Regions from separate parts of the Homo sapiens genome. Here region 2 is linked to region 1. The links come from fine-mapping of genetic effects on gene expression. A gene starts in region 1. The other region holds a variant in brackets. All regions are shown on one strand. Distances are between the middles of the regions.

Evidence for each region.
Region 2: its variant is fine-mapped to the expression of PPP1R1C in thyroid (GTEx, PIP 0.91).

The regions. Positions count from the first base shown.
Region 1 is chr2:181,983,421-181,987,833 of GRCh38, forward strand. PPP1R1C (protein phosphatase 1 regulatory inhibitor subunit 1C) reads left to right here and starts at 2,433. Exons shown (of 5, transcript NM_001080545.3): 1 at 2,433-2,771. The coding sequence starts at 2,691.
Region 2 is chr2:182,043,551-182,047,963 of GRCh38, forward strand. All of the region lies in intron 2 of PPP1R1C (protein phosphatase 1 regulatory inhibitor subunit 1C), which reads left to right. Among named protein-coding and RNA genes, the nearest start is that of PPP1R1C, 60 kb to the left of the region's middle. The variant G/T (reference allele first, on the strand shown) is at 2,049.

The DNA.
Region 1 (4,413 bases):
TGGCACATGGTATCATATAAGGGTTAATTATTACTCTTGTCTCTAATAGGGATAAAAAAATGTGCACTTAATATTTAGGAAAATTATACCCCCCATGCAAACTCTATATTAACATTTTTTAGATTATTTTACATTTAAGTTGCATTTTAAGTAGTTCTTCAAGTAAGAATTTAGCTTTAAAAGGACTTCAAATACCTTTTAACACAATCTCTCCTCTAGTGCCATAGCAAAAGGCCTGGTGTGGAGTAGACTATAGTATCTACTCAACAAATATTTGCTATGTGAATAAATAAAGTTGCAAAATACTAAACATTCAAAAGACATGTAGGTAGTTATTATGATAAATAGAGTTATGCTTCATTCTTTAAGAATACAGAGAGGTGAGTTTAAACCCAATGTGGAGAACAGTAAATCTACAAAGGCTTCCTAGAAGCAATGATACTTAACTGAATCTTAATGGACACACAGGAGTTGGCCTCATAAAAAACAAGAAGCTTAAAGGGTCTAGATAGCCCATTTACAATATTGTCTCTGATCAACCTATTCAAAATAGGGCAATTAGTTAATGAGAACCATTTTATTGGTATTTATACCAAACACATATATGAAATTTCACTTTATCACCTATTATTCTAAGTGGAATCAAATTATTCCAAGTAGATAGATATTCTTAGTGATTCTGGTTGAAAATGTGTATGTTGAAGCCTTTTGAAAAATCTGGCTGAAAGAAAAATAATAGCTATCTTTTATTGAGTGATTCCGTGCTGGCCTTGTAATGAGCTCTTTTCAGGAATTGAGTAATCTAAACCTCACAAGAAGAAAGTTCTCCTACTGCCCAAACTGATAAACTTGGTAAGTAGCAGAGCTAGAGCTTGAACTCAAGGTTGCCAAGTGCATGTTCTTAATTATTACATTATGTGAAGTTTTGTATTAACTCCTCACTAAAAATACTGTCTTGTCTTGCTTTCCTTTTATATAATTTGAAGATATATTCAAAGAAATAACTTCATTAATGATATCAATTTAGATTTTATTTCTGGAGACTTTTGTAAACTGTTACATAAAATGTAATTTATAAATTTCCCTTCGACACTACACGGATAAACTCATCACAAGATTTCTTGCTAGTCAGCACTGTTCTCCACTAAAAGTGCTTTCACATCCACATCTTTGCTTTTTCCCCTAGTGAATATAGAAAACTACTTCAATAATGCATATTCCTTTCTATATTCCTTCAACAGAATGTTGCCTATTTAAATCATTAAGATGGATTCCTAGTACAGAATCAAAATTTAAAAAATAAAAACTTCAATTGTAAATACCTGGAATCATAGTCGATGTCTAAATATATTAAGTACATCCAAAAACATATTTACAAATCTAGTATTCATCACATAATGCCTCTCAAGAAAGCAGAGATCTCAAGCAGTTTCATTTTCACACTTCCTTCATAAAAGTATTCGAATGCATGAAGGCCATCTGGCTATGTTACTACCTCCCCTTTAACATTAACTAATGTGGCAATCAGGCTAGTGTCCCACTGTTCCCTGACCACTAGCCAATATCAACCCTCTGAACATTACCCACTTCATGCTTTTTTCAAGTCCTTATCTTTACATACATTTCTACTGTTGACAACAAGCCATAATGTTGACTACCATTAGGTTTCTACTAATGTTTTCCAGTCATATTCTTCCAAGTCAGAGAATGTAACTGGCTCCACCAGGAAATAAAATAGAGGTCATTGAAGCAGCAGTGACTTCCAAGCTGTTTGCTAAATTTAGCAGCACAATACTTTCCACTCTAATGAAAACTGTGAACTGCAATTTTAGAATGTTGGAACAGGATGGGACTTTAAAGGTCATTGAGTCCAATCCCCTCATTTTTCTGATGGAAGTGTGGAGGCCTAGACGTAGCCAGTAATTTTCTGGAGGCCACAGAGCTTGTTAATTATGAAGATGGAACTCGAACTAAGATCTGCTCAGCCCTGCAGTAATGCTGCCCTCACTACACCACAGATGCTCTGCCTCCTAGGATGAGTTTAAACTAACCAGATCTTATAGCATAAACATAGCTGATATTATTGGTTGTGGCTTACCCTCCATGGCCATTCAACTGTTTCGTGGCTGAATGTGAAATAGCAAAGGTATCTGACTTATAAGTTGCTGAGAGAAATGATTCCATACCTAAACCCTGCCCCCAACTCTAAAAACTTCCTGCTTGATGTTCATCAATAATGAATGGCCCATCCCTGCAATACTCAGAGGGAGCTTACATTGCACTTTTGAGCAGCCGGTTAGTAATGTACAGTGGATAGAGCCTTTCTTTCAAATCCCAGGGCAGTGGGTCCTTCAAGGCTAGCATTGCATTTTCAATTAGCTGCTGAGTGAATGCTTGGCATGTGTATTAGTGAAGAGGCACACAATTAGCGTATTGTTCCTTTCTGTATTGTGCTGAGAGGATCCAAGGGATTGGTGGGGGAACAGGCAAGCCAGGCATCACCGTGGATGTTGAAGAAGGGGGTTACTCAAACCTCGGCATCTTCACTTGCTCGATCTGGAATTACAGCTATTTATTACGAAGCACTCTGTGTGGCTTAGTGGAGTGTGTCTGAGGAAACACATCCCGGACACCACTTAGGGTTAGTCTTTCTGAGCTCTTCACATCTCTGACTAATTATCATCATTACCATGGAGCCCAACAGTCCCAAAAAGATACAGTTTGCCGTGCCTGTATTCCAGAGTCAGATTGCACCTGAAGCAGCAGAGCAGGTATGTGAAATTGCATGGAGAACCATTCCTGTACATAAGGTAATATGAACATGCATTCTGGTTATTAATTGAAAGGTTCTTTACCTTTTGATTTTGCTAACTCTGACTTTCAAGATAATGTAAACAAGAAATAAGTTGGTTTTTACACATACTTGTATTTAAATTGCATTGGGAGAACTATTGTCTAAAATGTAACACTTCATTTGATACAAAATTAGCACCTCTGAGGGGAAAATGGCTCTGTAAGCAATTCAGATATGGATTCATAAATCTGTTCATTTTTGCTCATTAAAATAACAGTTTCAACATTTAGAGCAACTTTTAAAAATTATCAAAATGAGCAACATTTTATTTCATTTTTTATAAAATAAAATGATTGATTTAGCAATAAAATCATTAAATCCTGCAATAGTTTGAGACTATAGGCCTAATACTTTATTTTCATATGTTTTATTATTGTGGACACAAAACAATGATTATAAGTTTATATAATATATTACAGCTAGGATTTGTAGCTTTTTGTACAGTTTTAAAATCGTTTTGTTCAGACATTACAAACAGTGTTTTAACATTTCCTAGATTCTTTGTCCATGTCTAATATTGGTTTACATCTGTATCACCTTTCATATTCAGATTTACTTAGATTCTTGATGCAATGGCATCTCTTAGAACTGCAACTGTGAGGAGGCAAAAGCAAAGAAATTTATGAGGACATCAACCTAATCCATTCATTTCTTAAAACTTAAATTATTCTTGAATCCTTTTCCAAGTATTTGATATAAAGTCTTAAAAATAATTATTTAATCCGTGACTCATAGTGTTTCAGGATGTTTTGAAATCTGAGGTAGATGCACCTAGACTCAGGCCAGATAAATGTATCCTTGAACATGTGTCTATCCATGCTGAATGGGATGTTGCTTCTATCTTGGACAGGATGTCATTGATAAATTTTATTATCTATCCTACTGACACTTACTTTGGGTATTTACCCATAAATGAATATAATAAACAAATAAAGGATATTATATTCAAGGGATTCTGACAATACTATGCTCCTGTAACTCTTAAAATGAAAAAAAAAAACTTTAGAGTTTGTAATAAGTTGCATATTCTCATAAGATCCATATTTATTCTTCATTTGTTTATTTGTTCTAAATATTATACTAGAAAATAAAAAAGTTAACAAAATTAATTGAAATTCAAAGCTTATGCTGTTGATTTAACTCTGGTACCTGCTAGAAATAGGTTTCCAAGCTCTTCCTTATCCTGTTTAAAAATAAGGGTAATGAATCTTGAAAGCACCACCAATGTTATGAGGCTCCAAGCAAGCCACTAACATTATCAGGTCAACCCTGTACCTTCATTGTAAATTAATTTTCTGTTGTATCATTCAGTTGTATATAATTATTTCTTTTCCGTGGAAATGTAGCTTTTTGGTCAAAGAGGGTGATACTTCTATCAGACAGTTCAATTCTGTGGCTTTCTATTATTTCAAAATAAAATTAGTGAGCACCTTCCATGTGTCCTCCAGAAATTTGCTTTTGCATGTGGGGAAAAGATGAGGGTGAGACAGCTTTGCAAGCTGCAGAGTAACCTGGAGCAGTGTCTAATACTCACTGATATTAGCTGGGCTTTTGTCGTT
Region 2 (4,413 bases), 60 kb after region 1:
ACAGCACGCCATGTGTAAGCAGTTTACACATGTGCCACTCATGTAAATGTGGAGTAGCTGATCCGGGACAACTTCATGCCTACCCTGAAGAGTATGCTGACGTAAGTTGTATAGGTTACCATGAGGTTTCCCCTCGAATCCTTGGTTTCTCTTGTGTCTTTTTACAGGCCTCTTCCCTGCAGTCTATTCCTTATTTGTTGCTATTACTCAGAGTTGCTACCTTGGCCCTCTGCTTCTCTAGTCCTCCACCGTCTTCCTGGGCATTCTCATCCTCTCTCATGGCTTTATTGACCCCCTAGGTGCTGAAGACTCCTAAATCTGTGTCTTCAGCTCCGCTTTCACTACTGAGAGTGACTATATCTGAATTCTACCCACTTGGATAATCAGTAAGCACCACAATATGAACAATTCCATGAACTCAAAATCTAAGCCAGAAACTGCATGTAATGTTTGACTCACTTTTCCTGTCACCTGTTCCCCCACCCTCACCTATGTCGAGTCATTGTGCAAGTCGAGTCCATTCTTTCTCTTAAGCATCTCTCTCACCTGGTTCCACCTTCATCATCCATCACCTGAATAACTGCAATGTCTTCCTAACTGAGCTACCTGTATCCAGGATGGACTCCTCCAATTCATTCTCCACATAACTGTCAGAATGATCTTTCTACGAAAGAAATCTGGTCATGCCTCTTTCTGCTTAAAACCCTTCATTGGTTTTCCATCACTTTTGGAATAAACTACAAACTTCATACAGTTTCAAATCCCTGAATCATCTAGTCTTACTAAATCTTCAACCCCTTCTCTCTGAACTCACCCCTGGCATTCTATAGTCCAAATATTTGAGCTTTTTCTAATTTCTAAAAAACGTCATGCTCTCTCACACCTCAGGGAGATTCCCACAAGCTGTTTCATCTGATGAAAATCTTTTCTCATCTCCAGTCTTACCCCACCCAACTTCCTTGCCCACTCACCTTTGCTGGCCATCTCAGCAGCAAGCTTATAAAGATTTATTTCCTTTAAGGAAAAAAATGATAAGATAGATGCCCCTGATATATGCTTCTCGCACACTCGGTGCTTCGTCTGTTGCAGCACTTATTTATCATACTGTACTGTGGTTGCTTTTTAATCATCTGTCTTTTTCAATAGAGTTTAAACTCCCCAGGAGGGTGGGAACTTAGTTCCTAAAAGGATGCATAGCACAGAGTATATATGCAATAAATTATTGTTAAAATATTGGGCACATTTTGATCCATAGTGACAGACAACCTTACATATAAGACACAGATTATCATAGGCGTTAATCTACAAACTGCATTTAAATGTGTTTTTATTCTATTTTTCTCTTTTATCACCATTATGAGAAAAAAATGGTTAGTTTAAGGCTTATACAAAGATAAAGTTCCTTTTCCTTCATCTTTCTGTCTCTCTATCTATAGATATATGTATATTCTGTTTTCCTATCTGAACTTGGTGCCAAACATATTGAGCTGGTATCTTGTTACATGTCTGTCCTTTCACAGTTCTTCCATATAGCTACTAGAAATAATCACTACAGTTTAGAACACACTGTGCAACCCTCAAGTAAATTACATTTGAGACAAGAAAACTGAGAAACTGCATGAAGGTTAAGATTTTCGGGATAGGTAAAAATAGCAAGAGCTGAAAACAGAATCCAATTACACAGGTATTTAATCCTTCAATCTTTAAAACTCAATAAATAAAGCATTGCTTTTTTTGAGGCATGTTATTTAGGATGAAAAGTGAATGTTTATTTCAGATGATCAAGTGACAAAAACTAACTTCTATATTTTTCAAGTCGATAAAAACTTATAGAAAGTGAAATAGGATTTTAAGGATATTTTTCCATTGACCTCTCTTTCTGTTAGTAACAAAAAAAAAAAAACTTCCATTGATGATAGGATGCCTTCAGTTGATTAAGCCATGAAAAGATTACCACTTTGTTTATAATCATCCATATGTATTTAATGTGTACAGTAACATCTTGTGATTTTAAGAATAAATTTTCCATCTATAACTAAAAAATAAAA[G/T]TTTTCCTCTTGTTATACAGAGTTCTAGTTAAAGAGAATGTTGCTTTATTTTATGTTATTTTTATAATGGTTGGTTTACTCATAATAGTGATACTCAGATACAATTATTTTGAAATTTGCAATGGTTATATCTACACAGTTCAAAATGCAAAAGGGTTTGGAAAAAATAAATGATTCATCCATGCAAGATATAAAATAGCATAGCTATAAAATAAGAATATGACTTAAATGAGCAATTCTGTGATTTGGCAATTTGATCAAAGTAGAAAAGCTTCAAAATTATCAAATATCCAATCATATTTGTCTTTATAAGAATACAATGAAACCTAATTTTATTTTACCTTTTACTGTATATATATTTAAAATATACAACATGATGTTTTGATATACTTACCTTAATATACATATGCATAGTGAAGTGTTTACTACAATCAAGCAAATTAACAAACCAAGTATCTCATATAGTTACTTTTTTCTTTCTCTCCCCTCCTACATTTCCTTCCTTCCTTCCTTCCTTCCTTCCTTCCTTCCTTCCTTCCTTCTTCCTTCCTTTCCTCCTTTATTTCATGGTAAGAGTACCTAAAATCTACTCTCTTAGCAAAGTACCAGTGTGAATACATTATTAACTATAGACCTCCTGTTGTACATTAGTTCTCTAGATTTACTTAACCTACATAATGCAACTTTGTACTTTGACCTATATCATCCCATTCCCCCTGCCCTTACCCCATCCCTAGTAACCACTGTTCCACTCTCTGTGAAACCCAATATTAAACATAGCTTTGCTTCAGTTTTTATACATGAATGATAATCCCCAAATTAGTCATAGAAATTATTAACTAGCAATTCAAAGGCGAAGTGGCTCATGCCTGTAATCCCAGCACTTTGGGAGGCCGAGGCAGGCAGATCACAAGGTCAAGAGATCGAGACCTTCCTGGCCAACATGGTGAAACCTCGTCTCTACTCAAAAAAAAAAAAAAAAATACTAAAAGTAGCCTGACGTGGTGGCATGCGCCTGTGATCCCAGCTACTCGGGAGGCTGAGGCAGGAGAATCACTTGAACCCAGGAGGTGGAGGTTGCAGTGAGCCGAGATTGCGCCACTGCATTCCAGCCTGGCAACAGAGCGAGTCTCTGTCTCAAGAAAAAAAAAAAAAAGAAAGAAATACGTTGATAATAATTTTAAGTTGGACAATCATGGCAAGTAATTAAATGTACAATATATAAAGAAATATTTTACAAGTTTACCTTTATATTCCAATATCTTCTCTAGAAATGAAAATCTGTTACATGTGCTCTGGCTGACTAATGCAAGTTACAAAGCAGATTTAGTAAGTCACTGTCAATGTTAGCGACCTATGTGGAAAAAAAAAGAAAACGTTTCTGTGAAGTAAAAAGAGAACTAAATATTTCAAATAGTGGTAAGCAGCTAATTCTATTCTAATTCCAGTGCCTCTCAGAACCATCTTTAAAGTGAATGCTCTCAAAATTTCCTGTCATCATCATTCAAATTGTTAACGTTTGAATAATTTTCTCATGCTCACCTCAATTATTTCCCCTACTTCTACTTGTAAGGAAATTGGTCATAAGACTTTATTTGGAGACTCTGATGAGAATACTTTTGTGATATCTTATGTAGAAAAATGAAATATTAGTGTTTTAAAATGACTAACACCTAAATTATTCAAATCCTATTTAAAGGAATCTATAGATCAAAATGACATAAAAATATATTATTGGAAAAGGATTAAATGCACATTGAATAATTACATCATTAGTTTTCCAACATTGCCTAAAACATCTAATAATTATTTCTAATCTGTAAAAGTTATGTTAAAAGTATGTTTACAATCAGTTCTCTACTCAAAAGAAGATACACTTTTTTAAAAAACTAGAATTACTGGAATAAATATTGCTGTTTAAACTGATGTCATCCCCAAAGAAAACCCATCCATTAAGTGAACCAACTTATTTTTCTGGAGCAAATTGGCAAATTCAAACTCCAAGAAGGCAGAAAAAATTGTACCAGTGATTGAAAAATCACTACTGATAAGATGATGCAATAGTTCTTTGGCTCTCATATAAAATGGTTGTGTGGTAGGATAAAATATGTCTTATAAGAGAAACTAAGTTCATAAAAATTGAGAATACTAATGAAAAGCAGACTCTTGAGGTTTCAAATAATCTGCTTTTTCTGCTCTTCTTTTACTGTGCTTGGAAGTGGCAGCAGAAATTATGAAATATAAGCAGAAAGGTAGTTTGGAAGATTTCCAACCTGAATCATGAGATAATTACTAGTTGAGAGTTCTTTTTGAATAAATCAACATAATCCATCTTGTGTTTTCTTTGTCATTTCTACCACTATTT